4 linked regions of the Homo sapiens genome follow. The protein of the gene in region 4 interacts with the protein of the main gene of each other region in a pairwise test. Each region holds a gene or a part of one and is shown on either strand. Other genes may lie near its edges.

Region 1 (5,689 bases), on a different chromosome or scaffold from region 4:
AAACCTCAGAATACAAACACACTAATTGGAATGAAGATTGCAATAAGTTATTGTTTAAAACTAAGTCATAAAAATAATAGTGTACATAATCATATTCTAAAAACAAAATCACACACAAAACCACTGAAAACAGATAAAAAGTAAAGACAGATGAAAGTACACAGTGATTTTGTCCATCTTATTCTTTTATATCTTCAGGACTTAGAATGGTGCCCAAATTTGGAGACACACAATGAATATATGTTGAATAAAATATATTATTGAGGCAAAACTGTTGAAATAAAAACACCAATTCAGAGGAAAGAAGACAAACAGCTTGATTGAAGTCTCATCAATGCATTTGAAATGTACTAAAATGAATTGATAAAGCCATGTTTGCTATTCAAGTTAAACGTGTTTATTTAAAACTATTTTAAAATACATGTCACAACAGATGTCAGTGACTAAATAATAATAGGTGAAACCCTGATTCAATGTAATGATTCCAGATTCTTCCATAAAAACTGATGGCTAGTTCCTTCTGGAGCATGAAGCCAAAAAATGGTAGGTATTTTCTCTACATTGAGAAAAGTGTTCGCCTTGCTGAAGCATACGGGCAAGATCTTGGAGTTAGAGTATGAGAATCAGCAAGTTTTTTAGTAGAATCCAGAGAATCCATATCCTTCACGGCATGATGGGCGGCAGCAGCCATATCTATAGCCTCCATAGCCAGAGCCATATCTGTAGCCTCCACAGCCACAGCCATAGCCCAGACCACCAAAGCCTCCACAGCCATATCCCAGGCCTCTGTAGTAGCTGCCATAGTATCTCATGGTGTCAGGGACTAGAGATTCAGTTCAATGCTAATGATGAGTTTCCTGAGTGTAGGTGTCTCTAACTTCTCAGAATGATTTTATACTCTAAGTAGTGGGTGTCATGAACAACAATGACAGGTGATCTTATTTCCACATAACAGAATAATTTTAAGTCTAACAATTGTTTATTTTTTTTCTTTTCTTATGTAACAAAGGGTCCAAACTATTATTTAAAGACTTTTAGTCTTTAGTTTGCATTCCTAAGAACAAAATATTTTGAAGATGAAAAATGATTATAGCCACTTCAAAGGCCAGGCTGGTGTTGTAATTAAAATGGTCTAATCGGGTTGATAGCTTCCAGTAACGCTGTAATTACATAACCTCATATTGCTTTTCTTTTTAATTTGCAGTCCATCGTCTTGGTTACTTCATTCCCAGAACCCAAGGACTTCTCTTCATGGTAGTCAGGGCATAGTCACAAAGTCATTAGTGATTTCCAGTAGTCAAATTTAGAGGAAACCTTGGTTTTTGACTCATTTGAACTTTAATTGACCTTTGACATTGCTAACCTTCCATCCATTCATTCTTTTGTAAAGCTTTCTTGCCTTAATTTCTATGAGAAACCTTCAATTAGCTTCCTCTGCCAATTTTTTGTTAGGCTTCTTCCCAATTTTTTATTCATCCATTAACTTCAAAAGTGTACCTTTTCCTCTGCATACACTTTTCCCATGAAGTTCCATTAAATATTATTTTTCTTTTTTCAAATTTTATTTTTAAGAATACATAGTAGAGTATATATATCTATGGGGTATATGAAATACTTTTATACAGACATGACAATGCATACTAATCACTGGTTAATGGAGTAATAATCACTGGTAAATGATAAATAGGGTATCCATCCCCTCAAGCATTTATCCTTTGTGTTAAAGCAATTCAATTACACTCTCTTATTTTAAAATGTTCGATTAAATCAATAATTTAATTTAAATGCAATTTAATTATACATTTTAAAATAACTAAGAGAGTATAACTTAGTATGGCCACACTTTTGTGCTATCAAATACTAGGTCTTATTCATCATTTCTATTCCTTTGTACCCATTAACCACCCCTACTCCTCCATCACTCACATCCCTCCCCACCCCTACCCTGCACCCACCTACTCCCCTTTCCATTCTCTGTTAACCATCCTTCTAGTCTCTATCTCCATGAGTTCAATTGTTTTCAATTTTTAGCTCCCACAAATAAGTGAGAACATACAAAGTTTGTTTTTCTGTGCCTGACTTATTTCACTTAGCATAATGACGACCAGTTCCATCCATTCTGTTGCAAATGACAGGATCTCATTATTTTTTATGGTTGACTAGTACTCCATTGTGTATACATACCACATTTTCTTTATCCATTCATCTGTTGGTGGAAAATTAGGTTGCTTCCAAATCTTTGCTATTATGAACAGTGCTGCAACAAACATGGGAGTGCACATATCTCTTTGATATACTGTTTTCCCTTCCTTTGGATGTATACCAGGCCTCCATAGTAGCTGCTGTAGTAGCTCATGGTGTCAGGGACTAGAGATTAGGTTTGATGCTAAAGATGAGTTTAGCACCAGCAGTGGGATTTCTGTGTCATATGGTAGCTTCATTCTTTGTTTTTTGAGAAACCTCCAAACTGTTCTCCATAGTGGTTGTACTAATTTCCATCCCCACTAATAGCGAATGAGGATTCCAAAACATCTATTTGGTTCTTTTGTCCATTTCTAATCAGATTATTAGATTTTTTTTTTCCGTACAGATTTGTTTGAGCTCCTTATATATTCTGGTTATTAATCCCTTGTCAGATGCATAGTTTACAAATATTTTCTTCCATTCTGTGGGTTGTCTCTTCATTTTGTTGATTGCTTCCTTTGCTGTGCAGAAGCTTTTTAACGTGATGTAATCCTATGTGTCCATTTTTGCTTTGGTGGCCTGTGCTTGTGGAATCTTACTCAAGGAATTTTTGCTGAGACCAATGCCCTAGAGAGTTTCCCCAATGTTTTCTTATAGCAGTTTCATAGTTTACTTTTATTTAAGTCTTTAATTCATTTTGATTTGATTTTTGTATATGGGGAGAGATAGGGGACTAGTTTCATTCTTCTGCACATGAATGTACAGTTTTCCCAGCACTATTTATTGAAGAGACTGTCTTTTCCCATGTGTATGTTTTTGGCACTTTTGTCAAAAATGAGTAGGTGTCTGAACTTGTTTTTGGGTTCTCTCTTCTGTTCCGTTGGTCTATGTGTCTGTTTTTATTACAGTACCGTGCTGTTACTGGTTACTATCGCTCTGTAATATAATTTGAAGGTAATGTGATCCTTCGTTTTGTTCTTTTTCCTCAAGATAACTTTGGTTGTTCTGTGTCTTCTTTGGCTCCTTAAAAATTTTAGAATTTTTTTTTCTATTTCTGTTAAGAGTGTCTTTGGTATTTTAATAAGATTGCATTGAATCTTTAGAGCACTTTGGGTAGTATGAACATTTTAACAATATTGATCCAATCCATGAACATGGAATATTTTTTCCATTTTTTGTGTCCTCTTAATTTTTTCATCAGCATTTTATAGTTTCATTGTAGACGTTTTTTACTTATTTGGTTGCACTAATTTCTAAGTGTTTAAATTTACATGTCACTATTGTAAAAGGGATTACTTTTTAAATTTCTTTTTCACATTGTTCACTGTTGGCATATAGAAATGCTACTGATTTGTGTATGTTGATTTTATATCCTGCAAATTTACTGAATTGTTTATCAGTTCTAATAATTTTGACTGAATCTTTAGGTGTTTTTAAATGTCAAATTACATCATCTGCAAACAATGACATTTGACTTCTTCTTTTCTAATTTGGATGTACTTTATTTCATTCTCTTGTCTCACTGTTCTGTTTAGCACTTCCAGTACTATGAATAAATATGGTCAAAGTGGTCACCCTCCTCATGTTCCAGATATTAGAGAAAAAACTCTCAGTTCCTCCATCCCCCCTTTTTTTGTTTGAGATGGAGTTTGGCTCTTGTTGCCCAGGATGGAGTGCAATGGCGCGATCTCGGCTCACTGCAACCTCCACCCCCCGGGTTCAAGCGATTCTCCTGCCTCAGCCTCCCAAGTAGCTGGGATTACAGGCCTGCGCCATCACACCTGGCTAATTTTGGATTTTTAGTAGAGACAGGGTTTCTCCATGTTGGTCAGGCTGGTCTCCAACTCCCGACCTCAAGTGATCCATTCGCCTTGGCCTCTGAAAGTGCTAGGATTACAGGCATGAGCCACTGTGCCCGGCCCTCCATTTTTGTAATAAAGGAATGTTGTTATATCAAATGCTTTTTTTAGCATCAATTGAAATGATCATATGGTTTTTGTCCTTCATGCTGTTGATACAACACATCACACTGATTGATTTGTGTATACTGAACTGTCCTTGCATCCCTGGAATATATCCCACTTCGTCATGATGAATGATCTTTTTAATGTGTTCTTTGATATCATTTGTTAGTATTTTGTTGGGGATTTTTTCACCTATATTCATCAGAGACACTGGCCTGTACTTTTCTTTCTTCGATGTGTCTTTGTCTGGTGTTGATAACAGGGTAGTACTATCCCTGTAGAATGAATTTGGAAGTACTTCCTACTTCTCTATCTATTGGAATAGTTTAAGTAGGATTCATATTAATTCTCTTTAAATGCTTGGTAGAATTCAGCAGTGAAGCCATCGAGTCTCAGGCTTTTCTTTACTGGAAGACTAATTACTATGACTTTGATCTCATTACTTGTTATTGGTCTGTTCAGGTTTCAGAGTTCTTCATGGTTTAATCTTGATAGGTTTTATGTGTCCAGGAATGTGCCTATTTCCTCTAGATTTTCCAATTTATTGGCATATATTTGCTCATAGCAGCTATTAAAGATCCTTTGAATTTCTATAATATCAATTATAATGTCTTCTTTTTTATAACTGATTTTAGTTACTTAGATCTTCTCTCTTTTTTTCTTAGTCTGGCTATAGCTTGTCAATTTTGTTTATTCTAAAAGCAAACTTTCATTTCATCGATCTTTTGTATTGTTTTCTTCATTTCCATTTTATTTATTTTTCCTCTAATCTTTATTATTTTTTTTTCTTCTACTAATTTTGGGTTTGGTTTAGACTTGCTTTTCTAGTTCTTCAAAATGCATTGTTAGGTTAGTTATTTGAAAGTTTGATTCTTTTTTGATATAGGCAGTTAGAGCTGTAAATTTCCCTGTTAATACTGCTTTCACTTTATCCCACAGGTTTTGGTAAGCTGTGTTTTCGTTACCATTTATTTTCATAAGTTTTTCAATTTCCTCCTTAATTTCTTCATTGAACCACTGGTCATTTAGAAGCATATTGTGTAATTTCCATGTATTTGTATAGTTTTCAAAATTCCTCTTGTTATTGATTTCTAATTTTATTCCATTGCAGTCAGAGAAGATGCTTGATATTATTTCACATTTTTTGCATGTTTTAAGATTTGTTTTGTTATCTAACATATGGTCTATTCTTTAGAATGGTCCATGTGCTTAAGAGAAGAATGTGTATTCTGCAGCTGCTGGATCAAATGTTCTGTAAATATCAATTAGGTCCATTTGGTCTACAGTGCAGATTAGGTTCGATGTTTCTTTGTTGCTTTTCTGTACAGAAGATCTGTACAATGCTGAAATGCTTTTATTGAGGTCTATCTCTTGCTTTATCCCTAATAATATTTGGTTTATATATCTGTTTGCTCCTATTTTGGGTGTGTATATATTTATAATTGTTATACTCTCTTGCTGAATTGGCCCTTTACCATTATATAATGACCTTGTTTCGTCTTACAATTTTTATTTTAAGGTCTATTTGTCTGAACTAAGTA
Region 2 (7,030 bases), on a different chromosome or scaffold from region 4:
CCAGGCTGGAGTGCAGTGGCGCGATCTCGGCTCACTGCAACCTCCACCTTTGGGATTCAAGCGATTCTTCTGTTTCAGCCTCCCAAGTAGCTGGGATTACAGGCGTGCACCACCACACCCGGCTAATTTTTGTATTTTCGGTAGAGACGGGCTTTCGTTATGTTGGCCAGGCTGGTCTCAAACTCCTGACCTCAAGTGATCCACCCGCCTTGGCCTCCCAAAATGCTGGGATTACAGGCGTGAGCCACTGCACCCAGCCCCGGTTTTTTTTTGTTTTTGTTTTTGTTTTTAATGGTAGCAACAAATGCACATTTTAAAAGAAAACTAGAGAAAAATTGGTGGCGGCCAAAGCATCCCTAACCCGGCACACTCTTCTCCGGTGGAGCAAAATGCCAGGTTCCTGGGGTATCCTAAGATCCATGTGCATTTATGGGATGCTTACTGTATGCCAGGTACTGTTCTAGAACTTTTCTTGTCTGAATTCATTGACTCTTCTCCACCCCACCCTGCGAGGTTGTTAGTGGTACCTCACAGAGGAGGAAATGAAGCCCAGAGAGGTAGTGGAGTTTGCCTAGAGTCACACAGCAGGGAAGACGAAGGGCTGAGCTTTGAACCCAGTCCGAGAGGGGGTGGGGATGGCAGAAGCAGGTAAGCCACAGCCAGGTCCGCAGGGCCCCTGTGCTGGGTTGGATTTAAGTAGGTTAAAGGACACCTCCCCCACCACCATCACCAGTTCTTTTCCTGGACTGGGAGGCCCTCCTGCCTGCTCTCTTCCCTCCGGCCATGACGCCCTCATGGGGGCTTTGAGAAACGCCCCACAGCTCATCCTTCCCGGGAGGGCCTGTAGGAAGCTCTGGTGTCAGCCACCCGGACTGGCCAGGTGGAGTGGGAGAAATGGTGTGTTTTGTCCCAGCTAAAGAAAAAAGGCTGTTAGGAAGGACTAAGAGGGAGCTGAGGGGTCTGCCTGGGAAGTCCAGGCCCCCCATGAAGCTAGGGTCCCCTTGGGAAGTCCAGCCGGGAGCCGCCTTGCAGCCCCAGACCCTCTCAGCCTCTTTGTACGTTCTATTTGGGTCTGGAAAATTTTCCCCTGTGGTTGAGAGCTTGGGCTGCTGCTTGGCTGTGTGACCTTGAGCCAGTTCCTCACCCTCTCTGGGTGTCCACTGTGTCATCTATAAAAGGAGCGTGACAATGACGTTGCGGGCCTCGTCGGGACCGTGAGAGGTGAAGGCTCGTGAGACTCTCAGAGCTAGCGTTACCGTGCCCCCTCTAACTTCTGTTGTTCCTATAATGTTACTATAATGTTGCTTATTTCCCCCCAACCAGATCTGCAAGGGTGGTTTCATCACCCCCTTCTTACAGTCAGGGGCCCTGATGCTCTCCCCTCCCCGCAGCATCACAGAGAGCTCAACTCTTACCAACTTCCCTGCCCCTCAATTCAATGTCCTCAGCCCCTATGAAAGTTTACGGCTTCATTGACCAGGCACGGTGGGTGGCTCATATCTGTAACCCCAAGCACTTTGGGAGGCCGAGGAAGGAGGATTGCTTGAGCCCAGGAGTTTTTGAGACCAGCCTGGGCAACATAGGGAGACCCCCGTCTCAATTTAAAAAAAAAATTATTGCTTGACCCTCTGAGAATTGGCTGATCTTGCCCTTACAGGGGACTTGGAGCCTCAGTTTCCTCCCCTGGATAACGGAGGGTGGGGGGCTCCCGCCCAGCCGCCACTAACCACCCCATCTCCCCCCTGTGCCTCCTCAGCCTCAAGCTCGAATGTGACAAGTTGGCCAGTGAGAAGTCAGAGATGCAGCGTCACTATGTGATGGTAACGTCACTCCGCCCCCAGGTCCAGTGTTGGGGGCGGGCGACAGGGCCCTCCACATCCCCTCCACCACGGGCAGCTGCTCCCTCAACCCCGGCCACCTCCCCTGGGAAGCGCGAGGATCGGGGCCTGTTCTCCATTCAGCCGGCCCCTGCTGGGCTGAGCCTGCCTCGCTAGCCTGGCAGATGGCCGAGGCAGTGGCCGAGGTGCCAAACCGCCGGGTTGCAGACCGGCCCTGCCAGGTCCCCCGGCTGTCCTTGGCAGCGGAGGAGGGAGGAGAGGGAGGCTCACCGGCTGTGAAAGCCAACAGCCAGGAACTGACGTGGGGGAGCAGCCGAGTCCCTCCCCACCGCCAAGGTCCCAGCGTCCACACGCTTAACCCCTTTGGGCCCGAGCTCAAAGAAGAAGCCTGTGGGAGGGGGTCTGAGCCCTACCCATTTCGGGGGGCTGATGTGTGACACTGCATTGCTGCTGCCAGAACCACTTGCTCGGTTTTGTAACTGCCAGGTGACGATTTCTGCATCAAAAATCCCCTCCCTTACCCACCCTTGGCCTGGCCCTCGAGCAGCGATGCTGGGGTCTCAGCCCAGTACCCAAATCTCCCAGACTGTGGGGGAGGCAGAGCCAGACCCTGACCCTCCCAGCCAGAAGAATAGGGCTGGGGTCAGAGAGAGGGACCTAGGACCTGCCTGAGGAAGACTATATGGAGAAATGGGGCACACAGCTGGGGTCTTGCAGGATGAGTAGGAGTTCACCAGACAGAGACAGAGAAACTACGTGAAGGCCTGGGAATGAACTTGGTTTTCCCCCAGGGGTGACAGGGAGCCATGGGAGGGTTTAGAGCAGGGGAGGGGCAGGGTGAGATCTGGGGCTTGGGGTGGGGGTAGCTGCTGGCCCCAGAGCCAGCAGGCTTTGTTTACCCCTCACTGTTTATACCTAGGCAGGCAAACTTCCCTGGCGTCTGGGCCCACCCGCAGACAAGACATAGAAAGATACAAGATTAGGAGCCCTGGAATGCGTGTTCTCGCGGTGCACATGGAGTGGGGGAGGAGCCAGGCCAGGGCTAGGGACCTAAAGTGCCCCCAGTCTCCATCCGCAGCCCCAGCGGCCCCCTGCCCCTCTCCAGGGCGGGCTGGGATGCTGGGTGTGGGCGTCTCTCCCTCCTCTTTCCCTCCCACCTGCCTCTCCTTTCTTTCCTGCCCTCAGCTGTCTCTTGCTGTCTCCCCCCTTTGTCTGTCTCTGCCACTCCCCTATCTCTTTGTCTCCGTGTCCCCCCATCCTTCCCCACCCCCATCTCCCGCTCCCCCTCTCTCTCCCCCATACAGTACTACGAGATGTCCTACGGCTTGAACATCGAGATGCACAAACAGGTACGCCCATCTCCTCCTCCTCCTCCTCCTCCTCCTCCTTCCCCCTCCTCCCCCCACCTCCAGCCCCGCCTTGGGCACCCCCAGGCAGGTAGCGGCCGGCCCTCGGCTGGGCACCAAGCCAGCCCGGTTATCCTGTTACCTCCTAAGCCCTCCCCAAGCTCCCGCTCTCCTCCCCCCCGCCCCGCCTCTTTTTCAGGCCTCCCTGGGAGTGTTTCTCCCGGTGGTGGGGAGGGGCAGAGACCTTCCCCACAGCCTACGGCCCCCAGCCCTCCCTACATTCGCACAAGCGCTTACTACCTGCCAGGGGCCTGAGTGGCCGACCCCCGAGGAATGTGCAGTCTGGCCTCATCCTGCACTTACCTCACTCTAAGCTGCAGGCGACAGCCGGTGTCCAGCCCCACCTTTGCCACTGACTGGCTGCCCTCGGGCCCGAACACGGCTTTGCTCATCCCACCCTGGCCAGACCTAGCCCCTCTTAGAAGCCGCAAGTGGCAGGGCTGGGCCGGGCCCCGCGCAGGCCTCCTGTGGCTAGCCTGCACCTGCCACCCGCCCAGGACTGAAGCCGGCTTCATCTGTGTGTTCCAGGCTGAGATCGTCAAAAGGCTGAACGGGATTTGTGCCCAGGTCCTGCCCTACCTCTCCCAAGAGGTAAGAGCCAGGGCCTTGGGGAGGGGTTGTGAGGGGGCCCCGCACTTGCCCAGCCCCTGTCCACTGCAGCCATCTTGGGTGGTGTGCTGGGCGCCCCAGGGCACACGCCTCCCCTCTCTGGACCTCCCTGGCTCTGAACACCAGAGCCGGCCTGTGCAGAAGAATCCCCGGGCCAGAGACACTCCAGGGGTGCAGGCGTGTGGGGGGCGGGCCTCACCCTGCTCTGGAATTCCCAGCTGGAGTGAGTCATGTCATAGGTAGAAATGTCAGATGGGCCTAAACTGCACCAGGAATGTTTTTTTCTCATCTCTCTTCCTCCTTTCACCCTCTTGAGACATCCTCCTCCAGGCCATGCGGGCTGCACAGGACCAAGGACTAGAGGGTGTTAGGGGATTGTGGGGGAAGGGGTAGCACAGGGTGGTCACACATGGACACAGCCACACAGATAGGCACGAGCACATCAACACACGGGAGATACACAGATGCAGACACGGATACACGTGTGTGCAGACAGCACAGGGACACGCATGCAGGAATGTGCAGCTACACGTGGGCACACGTGATCCTGAGCACACATTACCACATGCACACACACACCCAGATGAACCTGACGCCCAGCTCCTCTTCTCCTTTCTTGGGTTCTGAGGCTCAGGATGCGAGGCCGCCCCTCCCCAGGGCCATGTAAGGCCCATCTCCTGTCCCTGCCAAGTTTACTGTCAAAAGTTTGTAACTTCCTCTTCAATCCCTGTGGGTATCTCAGGATCCTTTGGGTGCCCTGCTTTGCCCAGGGACAAGTCTTAGCAGGACCCAATGAAAGCCCTAGAGAAAAGGGCACTTGGAGCCCTTCAGAACAGAGGCTTCCTGGTAGCCAAGGCAAAAAGGGAGATTGGTAGATTCTAGCATCTGCTGGCCACAGAGTCAGGTGTTTGGGGAGAGCTCAGGGAGGAACTGCCCTGAATCTGAGCCCATTCCCCAGCCAGCCCTGCCAGAATTCATTGGGCCCTCCCCAGCCATGGTAGGAGAAGGGCTCAATTTGGCCAGACTCAGGGCACAGTCTTGGAGCTCCTAGGATCAGGACGTCCCTGTACAGTTGGGCAGGTTGTGTACTGCACAAACATTCACATGTTTCACATCTTTGCAGGTGGCTGTGCACATAGGATAGGTCAGGATCCAGGGTTTCTCCCGGGCTCACTCAAAAGCTGTTTCCTAACTACTTAGCACAAAACCCTTTTAATTGTTTTCTGCACTTTTCCATTTGTCTCTGTTGGCCAGACGAAGAGACGAGCTTGGTGAAAGGAAGCAGTTGGAGAGAGGGAGGGTGCTTTCTGATGGGGTTGAAAACCACTGGGAGGAGCAGACATGATGGCCCACTTGGTAGTGGGGCTCCTCCTGGCCTCAGGGCCGTCCCCCTCTCCTCTCCCAGGATCAGGAGGAATCACTGCCTCTCCTCTCCCCCGACCCCCTTCCAGCACCAGCAGCAGGTCTTGGGAGCCATTGAGAGGGCCAAGCAGGTCACCGCTCCCGAGCTGAACTCTATCATCCGAGTATGTATGGGGACCTGGGCGGGTGGGCGGGGGACAGGTGGGCCCCAGGCAGCTAATGTTCCCCTCCCCCGCCCTGCAGCAGCAGCTCCAAGCCCACCAGCTGTCCCAGCTGCAGGCCCTGGCCCTGCCCTTGACCCCACTACCCGTGGGGCTGCAGCCGCCTTCGCTGCCGGCGGTCAGCGCAGGCACCGGCCTCCTCTCGCTGTCCGCGCTGGGTTCCCAGGCCCACCTCTCCAAGGAAGACAAGAACGGGCACGATGGTGACACCCACCAGGAGGATGATGGCGAGAAGTCGGATTAGCAGGGGGCCGGGACAGGGAGGTTGGGAGGGGGGACAGAGGGGAGACAGAGGCACGGAGAGAAAGGAATGTTTAGCACAAGACACAGCGGAGCTCGGGATTGGCTAAACTCCCATAGTATTTATGGTGGCCGCCGGCGGGGGCCCCAGCCCAGCTTGCAGGCCACCTCTAGCTTTCTTCCTACCCCATTCCCGGCTTCCCTCCTCCTCCCCTGCAGCCTGGTTAGGTGGATACCTGCCCTGACATGTGAGGCAAGCTAAGGCCTGGAGGGTCAGATGGGAGACCAGGTCCCAAGGGAGCAAGACCTCGCGAAGCGCAGCAGCCCCGGCCCTTCCCCCGTTTTGAACATGTGTAACCGACAGTCTGCCTGGGCCACAGCCCTCTCACCCTGGTACTGCATGCACGCAATGCTAGCTGCCCCTTTCCCGTCCTGGGCACCCCGAGTCTCCCCCGACCCCGGGTCCCAGGTATGCTCCCACCTCCACCTGCCCCACTCACCACCTCTGCTAGTTCCAGACACCTCCACGCCCACCTGGTCCTCTCCCATCGCCCACAAAAGGGGGGGCACGAGGGACGAGCTTAGCTGAGCTGGGAGGAGCAGGGTGAGGGTGGGCGACCCAGGATTCCCCCTCCCCTTCCCAAATAAAGATGAGGGTACTAAAGTTGTCTTGGTTTTTATTTTATTATTATTTTTTTCTTTTTCCAGTATACTAGCTTGTCTTTTAAGAAAGGGGATATTAAAAAAAAAAAAAGACAAAAGTGTTTTTAAAAAAAAGCAACACCCACACCTGTGTCTGTATATAGTCAGCTTATCTCGTGTTCAATCGTCTGATCTCTACAGAGAGAAGTGGAAAATGCTGTATCAAGGGTGGGCTTAGCTGTGCCTTTCCAATAAAGATGTGAGAAGCTTCGGTGCTGTGTCCCTGCCTCTGTGTTGTGGCTGCCCCCGGGGGAGGACGGGGTTCCTTCCAATGTGAGACATCCTCCTAGAACATCAGGAGTTCCTAGCTGTGGCCCGGTGCGGTGTGGCTCACGCCTGTCATCCCAACACTTTGGGAGGCTGAGGCAGGCAGATCACTTGAGGCCAGGAGTTCGAGACCAGCCTGGCCAACATGGTGAAACCCTGTCTGTACTAAAAATACAAAAAAGCTGGGCGTGGTGGTGGGCAACTGTGATCCCAGCTACTTAAGAGGCTGAGGCAGAAGAATCACTTGAATTCAAGGAGGTTGCGGTGAGCTGAGATCGCACCACTGCACTCCAGCCTGGGCAACAAGAGCAAAACTCCATCTCAAAAAAAAAAAAAATACAAAAAGTAGCCGGGCATGGTGGCGTGCACCTGTAATTCCAGCTGC
Region 3 (7,030 bases), on a different chromosome or scaffold from region 4:
ATACAAAAAGTTAGCTGGGTGTGGTGGCAGGCGTCTGTAGTCCCAGCTACTCAGGAGGCTGAGGCAGGAGAATGGCGTGAACCCGGAAGGCGGAGCTTGCAGTGAGTTGAGATCGCACCACTGCACTCCAGCCTGGGTGACAGAGCGAGACTCCGTCTCAAAAAAAAAAAAAGACTTAGTTGTTCCAAGTTATTTCCTCCTCTCTTAAATCTTTCTTGTGGGCACAGAGGTAGCAAACGACCAAATAAAAGCAATACAAGATTCCAAGGGGCAACTGATTGAAAATATGTATCCATATCACTACACTGGTGATACTTGAATATGCATAAGGATTCTCATATGCTATCATGTGAAAACAAATTTTTGTTAGCTCTCCATGCATTTGACCTAGGTTTTTTTTTTCTAAGCATATCTTCAAACTTAATTTACCTGCTTAATTCATCTCTGGCTTCTAGCAATTTAGTTGCTTATATCCTTTAGAATCTGACTTTTGCTGTCATCAAATCATGCTCATGTATTTGCATACTATGGGCATGAAGCAGGGCAAGTTACATAAAAGAGCCCAGCTCTCCTGGTTTTCCCAGTGATTAGTATTAAGGAACTATGAAGTGTAATCTCTGGATGGAGCCAAGTTTCGTGAAGATGGGTTGGGGATAGGAATGAGAATCAAAGTTGAAATGCCCTTTAAATGATCCACAATTAAGGAAAGCTTGGAACTGGGTCTTAAAGCCATATAAAATCAGACCTCTTGTGGGCAAAGTCTGGAGTATCCAGGATAATACCAGATGTACTGAAAATCAGACTTTATTTGATATGTGTTGCTAAATAAATAAAAGGAAAACTCTGTCTTCAATTTATGAGAGTGAAAGTATATGGCTACCTGACATTTTTATATAATCTTTAAAACTTTTGCCTTTAAAAAGTTACCTAGAAACATGTCATTAGTCCTTCTGGGTCACTGGGGAAGATTAGGAGTGGGATTGAGATTGGTCATTGCTCAGGAGACATTGTAAATTTGGATGCTCCCAGCTTCTCTGCATTTATCTTTTTTTTTTTTTTTTGAGACAGTCTTGCTCTGTCGTCCAGGCTGGAGTGCAGTGGCGTGATCTCGGCTCACTGCAACCTCCTGGGTTCAAGTGATTCTAATGCCTTAGCCTCTCAGTAGCTGGGACTACAGGCACATGCCACCATGCCGGACTAATTTTTGTATTTTTAGTAGAGACAGGGTTTTGCCATGTTGGTCAGTCTGGTCTCGAACTCCTGGCCTCAAGTGATCTGCCCGCCTTAGCCTCCCAAAGTGCTGCAATTATAGGTGTGAGTCACTGCACCTGGCCCTTCTCTGCATTTATCTACTGGGAGGTTCCTACACTGAAATCAGATAGCCTATGCCCTACAGCTTCTGTTCCATGGGTACTCTAAATTTGTGGCACTCCCAAAGGGAGATTAGGTAGGTTCTCAGGAGGGTGGAGGTTAGTCTCAGATACCAGCTTACCCCAATTTCCTTGTTTTTTCAGGACACCTGACTGATAGTGAATGTAATCAGAAACACACATCCAAGAAAGGGTCACTGATAGAGCGCAAGAGGAGCTCTGGTCGGGTTAGGAGGAAAGGCGATGAGCCCCAGGCCTCGGGATACCACAGTGAAGGCAAGCCCTTCTGCACTGCTTCTCTTTCTCCTTCATTCACTCTATCAAACTTCTGTCATGCTCCAGACTGTTGGCTTCTCCTTTCTGTTCAGAGGGCTTTTCTTTGCTTTTTCGACATTGGGGTCTAGTATCCATGATCACTTTAAACATCTATATTTCTTTCATTCTTTGTGTTTTTAGGAGAAACACTGAAAGAGAAGCAGGCTCCTAGAAATGCCTCCAAACCATCCAGCAGCACCAACAGGCTGAGAGATTTTAAAGAGACAGTCAGCAATATGATCCATAACAGACCATCCCTGGCTTCTCAGACCAATGTAGGCTCTCACTGCAGGGGCAGAGGAGGAGACCAGCCTGACAAAAAACCTCCTAGGACCCTGCCTTTACACTCTCGTGACTGGGAAATAGAGAGTACCAGCAGTGAGTCAAAATCCAGTTCTTCCAGCAAGTATCGTCCCACATGGAGACCCAAACGAGAATCTCTGAATATTGACAGTATCTTTAGTAAGGACAAAAGGAAGCACTGTGGCTATACCCAGCTTAGCCCCTTTTCTGAGGATTCAGGTGAGGAGATAATTAGGGAAGAATTGGGCTTTTGAATAAAGTTGATTTATGTCTTTTTAAAACCTGGGTTTTTTGGTACATCTGGCAAGGGGCACTTTTACTCTGATGTCGGGTGTTTTAGGGATATGAGTTCAGTGAATAAGTAGCTAGAGGGAGGAGCTAGTTAGGTCTTGATTTTAGGCAAATGCTAAATCTACCTCATTTTCCATACCTGTCTTTTGATTGGGATAGCTAAAGAATTTATACCAGATGAACCAAGCAAGCCACCTTCTTACGACATTAAATTTGGTGGACCAAGCCCCCAGTACAAGCGCTGGGGCCCAGCACGGCCAGGCTCTCACCTTTTAGAGCAGCACCCCCGACTAATCCAGCGAATGGAATCTGGCTATGAAAGCAGTGAGAGGAACAGCAGCAGCCCTGTCAGCCTGGATGCAGCCCTGCCTGAGAGCTCAAATGTCTACAGGTATTGTTTGGCCTTTGAACAGCAACATTGTCTCTTGCAGCAATGTGAGCCACCTACTTGGGGCTTTCAGGCATGGCTGAGACAAGTGGAGGGATGGCCTTTGCTATTATCTCTATGTGCTCTTTCAACTTCCTATAACAACAGCACCCTCTGCTGGAAGAACAGAGGCACTTGAGAAAGGAGAGAGAACTTTCTATTTGAAATACAGTTATCATGTATAAAATAATTTTAAAAAATTAGGTTCAGGGGGCATATGTGCAGGTTTGTTAGGATAAACTTGTGTCATAGGAGTTCATTGTACAGATTATTTTGTTACCCACATATTAAGCTAGTACTCACTAATTATTTTTCCTGATCCTTTCTTTCCTCCCACCCTCCACCCTCCGATAGGCCTGTGTCTGTTGTTCCCCTCTGTGTGTTCATGTGTCCTCACCATGTAGCTCCCACTTATAAGTGACAATATGCTGTATTTGGTTTTCTGTTCCTGTCTTAGTTTGCTAAGGATAATGAAATAATTGTTTAGTGCTTGCTTTGGTAGCACATATACTAAAATTGGAACAATACAGAGAAGATTAGCATGGCTCCTGCTCAAAGGTGGCACAAAAATTTGTGAAGATTTCTGTATTTTTCAGATATGTAGGATAAACAAGTCTAGGGATCTAATGTAAAACATGACTACAATTAATAAAATTGTACTGCATATGAGATTCATGGTAAATGAGTAGATTTTAACTCCTCTTGCCACAAAAACAAAAAAAATGGGTAACTATATGAGATGATGGGTATATTAATTTCCTTCAATTATAGTAACCATTTTACTGTCTCTATGTATCTCATAACATCATGTTGTATACCTTAAATATACACAGTAAAAAAATGTATTAAAGAACAGATTAGGTCAGGCATGTTGGCTCACGCCTGTAATCCCAGGCTAGCACAAAAATTAGTGAGGCATGGTGGTGGGCGTCTGTAATCCCAATTACTTGGGAGGCTAAGGCAGGAGAATCGCTGGAATCCAGGAGGTGGAGGTGGTAATGAGCCGAGCTCGTGCCATGGCAACTCCAGCCTAGGCGACAGAGCAAGGCTCCATCTCAAAAAAAAAAAAAAGAAACAAAAACGGACTAGGCCTGCCGCAGTAGCTCACGCTTGTAATCCCAGCACTTTGGGAGGCCGAGGCGGGTGGATCACGACGTCAGAAGTTCGTGACCAGCCTGGCCAACATGGTGAAACCCCGTCTCTACTAAAGATACAAAAACAAAAATTAGCCGGGCGTGGTGGTGGGAGCCTGTAATCCCAGCTACTTGGGAGGCTGAGGCAGGAGAATTACTTGAACCCAGGAGGTGGACGTTGCAGTGAGCCAAGATCGTGCCATTGCACTCCAGTCTGGGCAACAGAGTGAAACTCCATCTCAAAAAAACAAACAAACAAAAAAAGAATGTATTAGTGGGCCAGGCGCGGTGGCTCATGCCTGTAATCCTAGCACTTTGGGAGGCCGAGCTGGGTGGATCACAAGGTCAGGAGATCGAGAACATCTTGGCCAACATGGTGAAACCCCGTCTCTACTAAAAACACAAAAATTAGCTGGGCATGGTGGCGCGCACCTCTAGTCCCAGCTACTCTGGAGGCTGAGGCAGGAGAATCACTTGAACCCGGGAGGCGGAGTTTGCAGTGAGCCAAGATCACGTCACTGCACTCCAGCCTGGGTGACAAGAGCGAAACTCCATCTCAAAAAGAATGGATTAGTGAATTAAAACTTATGTAATACTAAAATCAGAGAAGAAGCCCAAATGTTATTTTGGGACAGTGTTTTGTTGTCGTTGCTTTTTTTTTTTTTTTTTTTTTGGTATCGATGGGGTTTCATCATTTTGCCCAGGCTTGTCTTGAACTCCTGGGCTCAAGTGATTTACCCACCTCAGCCTCCCAGAGTACTGAGATTATAGGTGTGAGTCACCACACCCAGTATGGTGGGATAGTTTTTATTTTGATTTGTTTTAGGGTCACTGGGACTTTGTGTTTTATAATGCTAATAATATTCATAATAATGATGACAGTTTATTAGCACTCATTGTACCCTGCCCATAGGGCTCAGTTTGCTTTATAACTTTCAAATCTCCATACATTATTTTTACTGAGTTGCCACAGAGGCAATTTTTCTGTTTTCTTTTTTTTTTTTTTTTTTTTGAGATGGAGTGTCTCGCTCTGTCACCAGGCTGGAGTGCAATGGCACGATCTCGGCTCACTGCAACCTCTGCCTCCTGGGTTCAAGCGATTCTCCTGCCTCAGCCTCCCTAGTAGCTGGCACTACAGGCGCCCACCACCACACCCAGCTAATTTTTGTAATTTTAGTAGAGATGGGGTTTCACCATGTTGGCCAGGATGGTCTTGATCTCTTGATCTCATGATCCGCCTGCCTCAGCCTCCCAAAGTGCTGGGATTACAGGCATGAGCCACTGTACCTGGCCAAGGCAATTTTTCTAATAGTAGAGCTGCTTTGAAAAGCATGATTATATCTTCTACAAAGGTGATAACCACATGTTCATACTCTGTCAATGTTCTTCCCTGTCCACAGGATCCTGTTGAGTTTTACTTATGAGAAGATGCTACAAAGGTTTAGTAAGAAAGAAGGAAATAAATATGAAACCAATATGTTCATTAGTACATTCAACAGATTTTGAATATGTATTATGTACCAGATACTGTGCTAGATGCACAAGTTGTGAATGAGGTGAGATGAGGTTAGATAGGAGAATGAGTGGATATTTCAATTCTTCAGAAGTAGTTTAGCAGAAGCTCTAATTGTGTAGTTTGATTTTTTTTTTTTGAGAGAGAGATTTAGTCCTAGGAATGTTGCTATAACCTGCTTTCATGCTTTCACTAGACTCTGAGTTCTCTTTTGAAGGGATCCAAGTGCTAAGAGATCAGCTGGGTTGGTTCCTTCCTGGCGTCATATCCCAAAGTCGCACAGCAGTAGCATCCTGGAGGTAGACTCCACAGCATCCATGGGTGGCTGGACAAAGAGTCAGCCTTTCTCTGGTAAGCAGAATGACACTGAATTTGAGGACTGGATTTGACCGGCAGTTTTGTCTGGGGACCAGACTTACCTGAGCACATTTGAAATTAGAGGACAGTTACAGGCCGGGCGCGGTGGCTCACACCTGTAATCCCAGCACTTTGGGAGGCCGAGGCAGGCAGATTGCCTGAGCTCAGGAGTTCGTGACCAGCCTGGGCAACATGGTGAAACCCCGTCTCTACTAAAATACAAAAAATTAACCAGCGTAGCGGCGTGCACCTGTAGTCCCAGCTGCTCGGGAGGCTGAGGCAGGAGAATTGCTTGAACCTGGGAGGCGGAGGTTGCAGTGAGCCAAGATCGTGCCACTGCACTCCAGCCTGGGCGACAGAGTGAGACTCCATTTCAAAAAAAAAGAGGACAGTTACAGTTTGAGTATTCCATCAGAATGTAAATGTAGAGTCATTTCAGTTGCTCCATCTTTGGATTTATCTATTTTTTGTTCTCCATCACAGCCTGCATGAATATTTCTTTCTACCTGGAGGGAGCCCTTGTGGGAGCAAGAAGGGACAGAAATATGGTGAACAGTGTTACTAACATCCCCATTCTTCAGAAGAATAAATCCTAGGGCTTTCCTTGGATTAGGGACAGCCTCTTGGGAAATGGATTTCTTATTGTTTAGTATTATGAATTGACATACCAAAGGGGTACATGTGGCTATTTGCAAAACTTGGAAATAAGCAATTCAAATTTATCCTTACCCCTGGCTAAATATCTTAGTCTTACTACCAATTCTCTTGATAGTTACTGACAATTCTTAGAGGTAGCAGGAAGAAAGGCCTGCAGCAGCAGTAGTAAAAAGGCATGAACCCTTTTAGGTATGTATACTAAAGGTTGTGGACATCTGGCAGAGCAGAACAATGCCTATAGAGGCAGATATCTCTGGAATCCTGGGCTCTAGTAAGTTATAGTTAGAGACACGTGGAAGACATTTGGGCTTCCCATTGTAATTATACATTTGATTTATTCCCCACATTTTAATTTATTTCATGTTGAATAACATTGTTTCAAGAAACTTGTGAATCGTGCATGAGACTATTCTCCCTTCTCTTCAGATAGCCAGCATTTTTTTAATTACACTAATGACTGAGTCTCATGATCTCCTGAATAGTCCTCAATTCTGGACCAGTTGGATAGAATTCACCAACAGCGTTCTTCAACTGGTAAAAGATAATTAGCAAGGAGTTATGACAAGATTCTTCACACACCATATCACCCCACCATCCTGTTTGTATAATAAGCCCTATTTATGCGCCACAATTTGATCTAACCATTTTATTAAGACACAGAACA
Region 4 (7,030 bases):
CCAAAGGAAAACACCTGGAGCTGGGAGCAGTGAAGACATTGGGGAAGATGTTTTCCTCTGCAGACAGGAGGGCAATTCTTTAGTGGAGGCAGTATAAGTATTTAGGAAAAATAAGATCATGAGTCCCATGGAACATTTTTTGCCTTAATTAGCTTTATTTTAATTGTGTGGCTTTTCTCTGTAATATTCGTTTCAGCCTTTGTGTTGGGCACTAGACATGAGGCACGAGGCAGAACAGACATGGTCTCTGCTCTCATGGACTCTGCAGTTGAGTGGCAGGATAAATTTTAATCAAATGAGTATATAACTATTTGATGATGAGTTGTGGTGTACGCTGTAAAAGGTCATTTAAGGTGCTGTGATAGCATTCCACCCAGGGACCCAGGCAAGTCCCCCGGATAAATAGGGGCTGAGGGAAGGCGTTCCTGAGGAATGATGTTTGCTCAAAGACCTATAATGACCCCATTAATTGAATATTTGGAAGACAGAGGGAGGGCAGGCCCTGGGCTATCCTGTAACAGTATGTGGGCTACAGCCTGCAAGCCAATTGGTACACTTGGTAAAAAGAATTGTTTCTAAATTTAGAGGAAGTGTTGAAGCTTCTGGGAAGCAGGTGGTGACAATGACATTCAAAGAAAAAAATTGTTTTGTTTTGTTTTTTGAGATGGAGTCTCACTCTTGTTACTCAGGCTGGAGTGCAGTGGCACAGTCTCAGCTCACTGCAGCCTCTGCCGCCCAGGCTCGAGCGATTCTCCTGCCTCAGCTTCCCAAGTAGGGGACTACAGGCGCCTGCCACCATGATTGGCTAATTTTTATATTTTTGGTAGAGGTGGGGTTTCAGCATGTTGGCCAGGCTGGTCTTGAACTCCTGACCTCAAGTGATCTGCCCGCCTCGGCCTCCCAAAGTGCTGGGATTACAGGCATGAGCCACCATGTCCAGCCCAGTTTTTTTTACACTGTGTGAAAGTTTCTAAGATTTTAAAAAACTTTCATGAGAAAATGCTTGGGAAACTAAGATTGAAAAACCTTAGTCTTGCCATGTAATTTGGAATAATAATTATAGAATCATCTCTGTATCCTATAAAATAATACCATGCTTCTAAATGAAAGCCAGTGACCTGTGGGTCTCTGCACCTGTTGATGAGATTTACAGTCCTCTACAACGCCCTGTCTTTGATGCCAAACAAGGAATTCTCTCAAATTGTCCTCCCCGCACACAGTGTCTTGGTTGTGGTTTATGTTGTCTTTAAGCAGTAGGTACAGTCGGCTGTACAGGGGCTGAGTTCAAGACATTAGTTAGAGAGTATCATCAAAGAGGACATTCCATTAACGATAGCAACAGTAAAATATCCAAGGTTAAACCTTGTGGAAACCTCGTTAGTGGGGTGGAAAGGACTTTAAAACAACTAAAGGACTGAAAAGATATTAATAAATTTTTGGAAGGAAACTTCAATATGGTTAAAAATCTCCATTCTCCCTAATTATTCTATAAATCCTCTGAGTTTCCAATGAGAATATTAATAGCATGTATGTTTTCTGTAATGATACTAAGTAAAATGGTTACTAAAATTTGAGTGAGGGGGACATGCAGAACCCAGAAACTGTTTGAAAAAGAGAAGTAATACTGGAGCTATTGTATCCCACCCAAATCCCTTTGATCCTGGTCCAGGAGTAGACAGGCAGATCAGTGAACAGAAAAGATAGTGTGTGTGTAGGCAGACATACACACGTAGTTTAGGAGGTGATTTAGGTAGCATTTTAAATAAAATTGGAAATGATCATTTATTCAGTAAGTGTTGTTGGGATGATTTATTTCAAATAAATGAAAGATTTAAACACAAAATTGATTTGCCCCCATTTGCACGTAATACACTATATGTGTACATGAGTATATATACACACACATACACACACACTGGTACAATTTATCTCTGAGTTTTCATGAGGCTGGCTATCATAAACTCTTTCTTGCTTAAAATGTTTTCAATGAAAATTCCTAAAAGATTGCATTTTTAAAATTTGAGGTCTTGAAAGAAATTACAATTTAGTCAAATTATCAATAACGTAAAGATCTGTTTTGTAAAGGGAGACTCATGTATGTATTGAAAATAATAATATTTTTAAGGATCTTTTGTTTTCAGTATTTTTTTTTACATTACACCTCTGCTTTGTCTTCCTGTTTGAGATCTTTTCAGAATTTATCAGTGTCTCTGAGCATGTTAAAAGTCTGAGTGGGAGAGAAAGGAAGGAAAGGCAGTTGCTAAAATATAACTTGAAGAGAGAATAAATAGACAGGAAAGCTCACTTTTGTAATGCTGCTTGAGACCTGCAATTGTAATTACTGTCCTAACATTTGTGATTGATTTTTAGGAGGAAGTAATGGTTCTGGAGAGAATCTTACTGCAGACCATCAAGTTTGATTTACAGGTAGAACATCCATACCAGTTCCTACTAAAATATGCAAAGCAACTCAAAGGTAAGAAGAAAGTTTTCAGAAGAATTTTTTCATTCTGAAATCAAGTCTTTATAATTTGATGACACTCAAATTACGCTTCTCAAAAGCGGAAAACAAAGTTTGATGTGTGAAATACCAAGGGCATGGCTTGCTCAGTCAATTCAGCATTGCAGCTGCTAATGCTGTTTCCTTTTATGTATAAACAGGCTCTGTCATCCAGTTGCCAAGTGATGGGAGAGGCAGGAAAATGAGGCAGAATTTTTTAAATGGACTAATAAACTTAGCCTTGGAGCCAGGTTTTCCATACATGGTGGTTCAGCGTAGGTCATGAGGAGGAAGAAGGGGTAGGATGTGGACCCACATCATTCATCCTTGTTTCCCACGCAAAAGCTCTTTGCTGTGTATTTGAGTGGTGCTGAACACGTGGTAGGTTTTTAATAAATACTTGATGCTGCCTGTGAATTTTTCTATTGCTATTAATTTACCTTTTTGTCCCCATTTCTAGGTGATAAAAACAAAATTCAAAAGTTGGTTCAAATGGCATGGACATTTGTAAATGACAGGTATACATGTTCAAATGTTGATTAATTACAGTATTTTAAAATAGGCAGAGACTTTATGGACCATTTCATCTAAACCCCTCATTTTGTGTCAGAAGAAACTGACTTGCCCTGGCTTGAGGAGCCAGTTAATGGCAAAGCTGGGGCTGACGTCCAGGTCATCTGCTTCCCGGCAGAGGGTTTCCTTCTGCCCTGCCGTGTCATGGTGTTGTGAGGTGCTGAAATTTTATCACCAGTCTGAAACATAAGTCCAAAACAATACACTGGAGAATTTTGAAAACTAATTACTTAGAGCCCATTTGGTTTTGCAAAAATATACTTCCTGGTATAGTTTTAGAGCCTTAACACTCTTTTGAGAGGCCAGGGATCTAATGAGGGGCCGTGGTGGGAAACAGAATGCCTGTGAATGGAGTTGCTGCCAGCCCCATCCCACTGCAGTCAGTGAAGCTTCTCTTACATTTGACTTCCTCCATAAGATTTCATTTGAAGAAACAGTTGAGTGGCTAGGATTTCAACAGTTTAAATAACATAAGTCATTTTCATTGGTGTAGCAATTTTTGGATGTGCTAGAATTCTTCTGATTCTTTAAGGAATAGAGAAATTACTAACTATGGTTAAAGTAACTTAGTCGGGTACCTTTAGAAGAGTAAAGACTTGAGTTTATTTATTTATAGTACTTTAATTAAATTTAGGGGAGAATAAGCAAATTAATGGTTAGTTATGGCATCTCCATGCACTGGTTTAATCATAAATATTAGATCATATTATCTAACCTTTTTTTTTCTTGTTGAACTAGTCTCTGCACCACCTTGTCACTGCAGTGGGAACCAGAGATCATAGCAGTAGCAGTGATGTATCTCGCAGGACGTTTGTGCAAATTTGAAATACAAGAATGGACCTCCAAACCCATGTATAGGAGATGGTGGGAGCAGTTTGTTCAAGATGTCCCGGTCGACGTTTTGGAAGGTACCAGGCATGCTAAGCGTTCTCGTGAGGGTGTTCCATGTTGAGATGATTCTTCCATGTGTACCCTGAGTCCCAAGAATGGATTTTCCCAGATAGACATATGTGAGCAATATTTCAGAAGCATCATTAATTAAATTATCTAATAGTTTCCACTTTGTCCAAACACATACTTTTGGTAAACTAAAAATACACACCAGTGTTGCACACAACGAAGATGGGGTGAGTTGTAAATGTGATTCATGCTTAGGTCCTCGTAGGGGTATCATAACTGATTCTTTATCCAGGTAAAATTTTATTTAAAATACCAATTTGTGTAAAATGTAATTGTTGGCTATCATTTAGACATCTGCCACCAAATCCTGGATCTTTACTCACAAGGAAAACAACAGATGCCTCATCACACCCCCCATCAGCTGCAACAGCCCCCATCTCTTCAGCCTACACCACAAGTGCCGCAAGTACAGCAGTCACAGCCGTCTCAAAGCTCCGAACCATCCCAGCCCCAGCAGAAGGACCCCCAGCAACCAGCCCAGCAGCAGCAGCCAGCCCAACAGCCCAAGAAACCCTCTCCGCAGCCCAGTTCTCCCCGACAGGTTAAGCGAGCCGTGGTGAGTGGGCTAAAGCAGGCCCTGGGTAGAGCAGGCTTTCCAGGTGGCGGCAACACCTGAGCACTGTTCCCATTTCTAAGCGAGCACAGGGAACACCGGAAGCAGGGGGTGTTCGCCGAAACTCGCAGTCCGACTGCTTGTCGGTGGGGAGCCTGAAAACAAAGGTGCTCCAAGGACAGGCTGCCTCTGAGAACCAGGAGGGGGCTCTCTGCCCGGCTCCAGCCCTGCTGCCTGTTTCATCCCTGCCAGGGTTCTGAAGCCTGTCGGTGTCGTTGCCGTGTCCTAGCAGTGTCGTTGTGCATGCTGCTTCTGTGCAGCTGCCTGACCCCAAACAGTGGACCGTTTCCTGCACCCAAGTGGTCCTGAAACTTAGTGTTTACTCAGAACTCACCATTCAGGAAAGCTAGTCATTCTGTCTTATTTGGTAAATGGAAAGAGGAAGGGAGCAGAAATGATGATCTGGTAGGTGCCGTGGTTTGCCCTGAAAGTTCAGGCTAGAAATAATTTTTGTCCGAGGCTGTTCACAGTGACTGCCGTCGCTGATTCTGGTGGTACCTGGATAATCCATTTTTTTCTCATCATACTCAGGATCCCAGTTAACAATTGTGTATTTTCTTTTGTAACAGGTTGTTTCTCCCAAAGAAGAGAACAAAGCAGCAGGTAATTTCCTGTTCTGATGTTTTTTTAGTTTTATGTGTTTATATGCAAAACTTTAAATTCTTAGCCAACATTGTTTCTTTTCAGATCTAAATTGGCCTTAAATCTTAACTTTAGAGCTCATACAAAACTTTTCCATCAGCATTGTCTTTCTGTTCATCACCTGATCATAGATTCTAAAATTGTGCTCTTACGAAGCTATCAGTACAGAAAACATTACTGGCAATAAAAATGTACTCAGTAACATATATAAAAGTATAATTATGGCTGTAGGAGAACTGTTGCTGCAATTTTATTTTTAGAGACTATTTACCCCCATCACAGCAGCAGGAGTCCTCTCCCAAGCACCAAGCCACAGCAGATGCGGGGGGGCAGTAGGGGGTGGTGTGCTGCCCGGACAGCACCAGCCCGGCCCAGCCCAGCTGCCCTTGCAGGCAAGGCCTCTTTGAAACACACTTGGGTTGAGGTGCTGTCACATGTCTAGAACCCAAAGTTAGTTCATGTCAATATTGGAAATAAACAGAAGGAGTGAGCAAAATTGGAACAATTACAAAACAGAAAGTTAGAAATGTTTTGTCACAGGGTCAGTCCACCTATCATACTGAACTCTTTGAAGGCACAGACCCTATTGACTCATTTGTCTTTCTTTGTTACTTGGTTCTTAGTTCCAGTAGTTCCTGGTTCTTAGAACCATGTTCTCGGTTCTTAGTTCCATTCATTAAACTGCTGTGAAATCTTCCAGTTATGATAGAGCTACTTTTTTTTTTTTTCCAGTATATTTGAGGGAATGATGAGTTCAGTACAGGTGAATTTTTTTTTTTTTTTTGAGACAGAGTTTCACTCTTGTTGCCCAGGCTGGAGTGCAGCGGTGCAATCTTAACTCACCACAACCTCCGCCTCCTGGGTTCAAGCAATTCTCCTGCCTCAGCCTCCCGAGTAGCTGGGATTACAGGCATGCACCACCAGGCCTGGCTAATTTTGTATTTTTAGTAGAGACAGGGTTTCTCCATGTTGGTCAGGCAGGTGTCAAACTCCCGACCTCAGGTGATCTGCTCGCCCCAGCCTCCCAAAGTGCTGCGATTACAGGCATGAGCCACCGTGCCCAGCCTACAGGTGAATTTTTTAATTAGCTTCAAATTGACCGACATTAAATGTTAGACACAAGAACGGGCTACACTCCATGCCACATGAAATGCAATTGAGTTGACGTGCAGGTCTGTCAGAGGCAGGAAACAAACTATATATGACCTTGAAGGAAGAGTTGCATTTGAGCAGCGAGAGCAGAGGGGGAGGATGGAGCAATAAGTTGGAAGTACGCAAGTGAGCAAAGGAATTGAGAATCAGGGGAAATGGAGAGGAGTCTTTCTGGAATGTGATGAATTGAAAGGCAATAGCTTCTGATAGGATCTAAAATGTGGGTTAGGACCAGATCACAGAGTTTACCTGGAGGACTGTGAGTTTGGCAGAGGCAAGGGAAGCCATTGGAGATTTAGCAGGGGAATGGCAGAGTCTAAATTCATTTGAGAAGGAGTCCCCTGGCAGCAGTAAATAGGGCAAGTGGTTAGGAATGGGGAGAATCTTGCTGGCACTCATGGGAAACATGGTGGCCTCAGCATGCTGGCTGCGGGGCAGGAAGGGCAGATCCGGAGGAAGCTTTATAGAGGAACTCAGCTGCACTGTGCCATGCCGAAGGCTACTGGCTGCAGAGGGCTGCAAGCACTCGAAATGTGACTGGGTCAAATTCTGAAGCACTGACAATGCAAAATACACAGAGATTTCCAAGA

The links.
Region 1: the proteins of CCNK (region 4) and KRTAP19-6 interact in binary tests that used the Homo sapiens proteins (3 or more experiments, as listed by UniProt).
Region 2: the proteins of CCNK (region 4) and TLE5 interact in binary tests that used the Homo sapiens proteins (3 or more experiments, as listed by UniProt).
Region 3: the proteins of CCNK (region 4) and USP54 interact in binary tests that used the Homo sapiens proteins (3 or more experiments, as listed by UniProt).

The regions. Positions count from the first base shown.
Region 1 is NC_000021.9:30,541,022-30,546,710, forward strand, and holds KRTAP19-6 (keratin-associated protein 19-6), read right to left. Parts: upstream 844-5,689; 5' UTR 813-843; coding exon 636-812; 3' UTR 514-635; downstream 1-513. UniProt on the Homo sapiens protein: In the hair cortex, hair keratin intermediate filaments are embedded in an interfilamentous matrix, consisting of hair keratin-associated proteins (KRTAP), which are essential for the formation of a rigid and resistant hair shaft through their extensive disulfide bond cross-linking with abundant cysteine residues of hair keratins.
Region 2 is NC_000019.10:3,052,469-3,059,498, reverse strand, and holds the end of TLE5 (TLE family member 5), read left to right. Parts: intron 1-1,756; coding exon 1,757-1,820; intron 1,821-3,142; coding exon 3,143-3,187; intron 3,188-3,772; coding exon 3,773-3,835; intron 3,836-5,304; coding exon 5,305-5,379; intron 5,380-5,458; coding exon 5,459-5,680; 3' UTR 5,681-6,589; downstream 6,590-7,030. UniProt on the Homo sapiens protein: Transcriptional corepressor. Acts as a dominant repressor towards other family members. Inhibits NF-kappa-B-regulated gene expression. May be required for the initiation and maintenance of the differentiated state.
Region 3 is NC_000010.11:73,525,320-73,532,349, reverse strand, and holds part of USP54 (ubiquitin carboxyl-terminal hydrolase 54), read left to right. Parts: intron 1-1,514; coding exon 1,515-1,646; intron 1,647-1,826; coding exon 1,827-2,207; intron 2,208-2,438; coding exon 2,439-2,670; coding exon of another isoform or gene 2,671-2,845; exon of another isoform or gene 2,846-3,161; intron 3,162-5,569; coding exon 5,570-5,703; intron 5,704-7,030.
Region 4 is NC_000014.9:99,498,396-99,505,425, forward strand, and holds part of CCNK (cyclin-K), read left to right. Parts: intron 1-1,794; exon of another isoform or gene 1,795-2,370; coding exon 2,371-2,476; exon of another isoform or gene 2,477-2,960; coding exon 2,961-3,018; exon of another isoform or gene 3,019-3,811; coding exon 3,812-3,981; exon of another isoform or gene 3,982-4,323; coding exon 4,324-4,589; exon of another isoform or gene 4,590-5,215; coding exon 5,216-5,249; exon of another isoform or gene 5,250-7,030. UniProt on the Homo sapiens protein: Regulatory subunit of cyclin-dependent kinases that mediates activation of target kinases.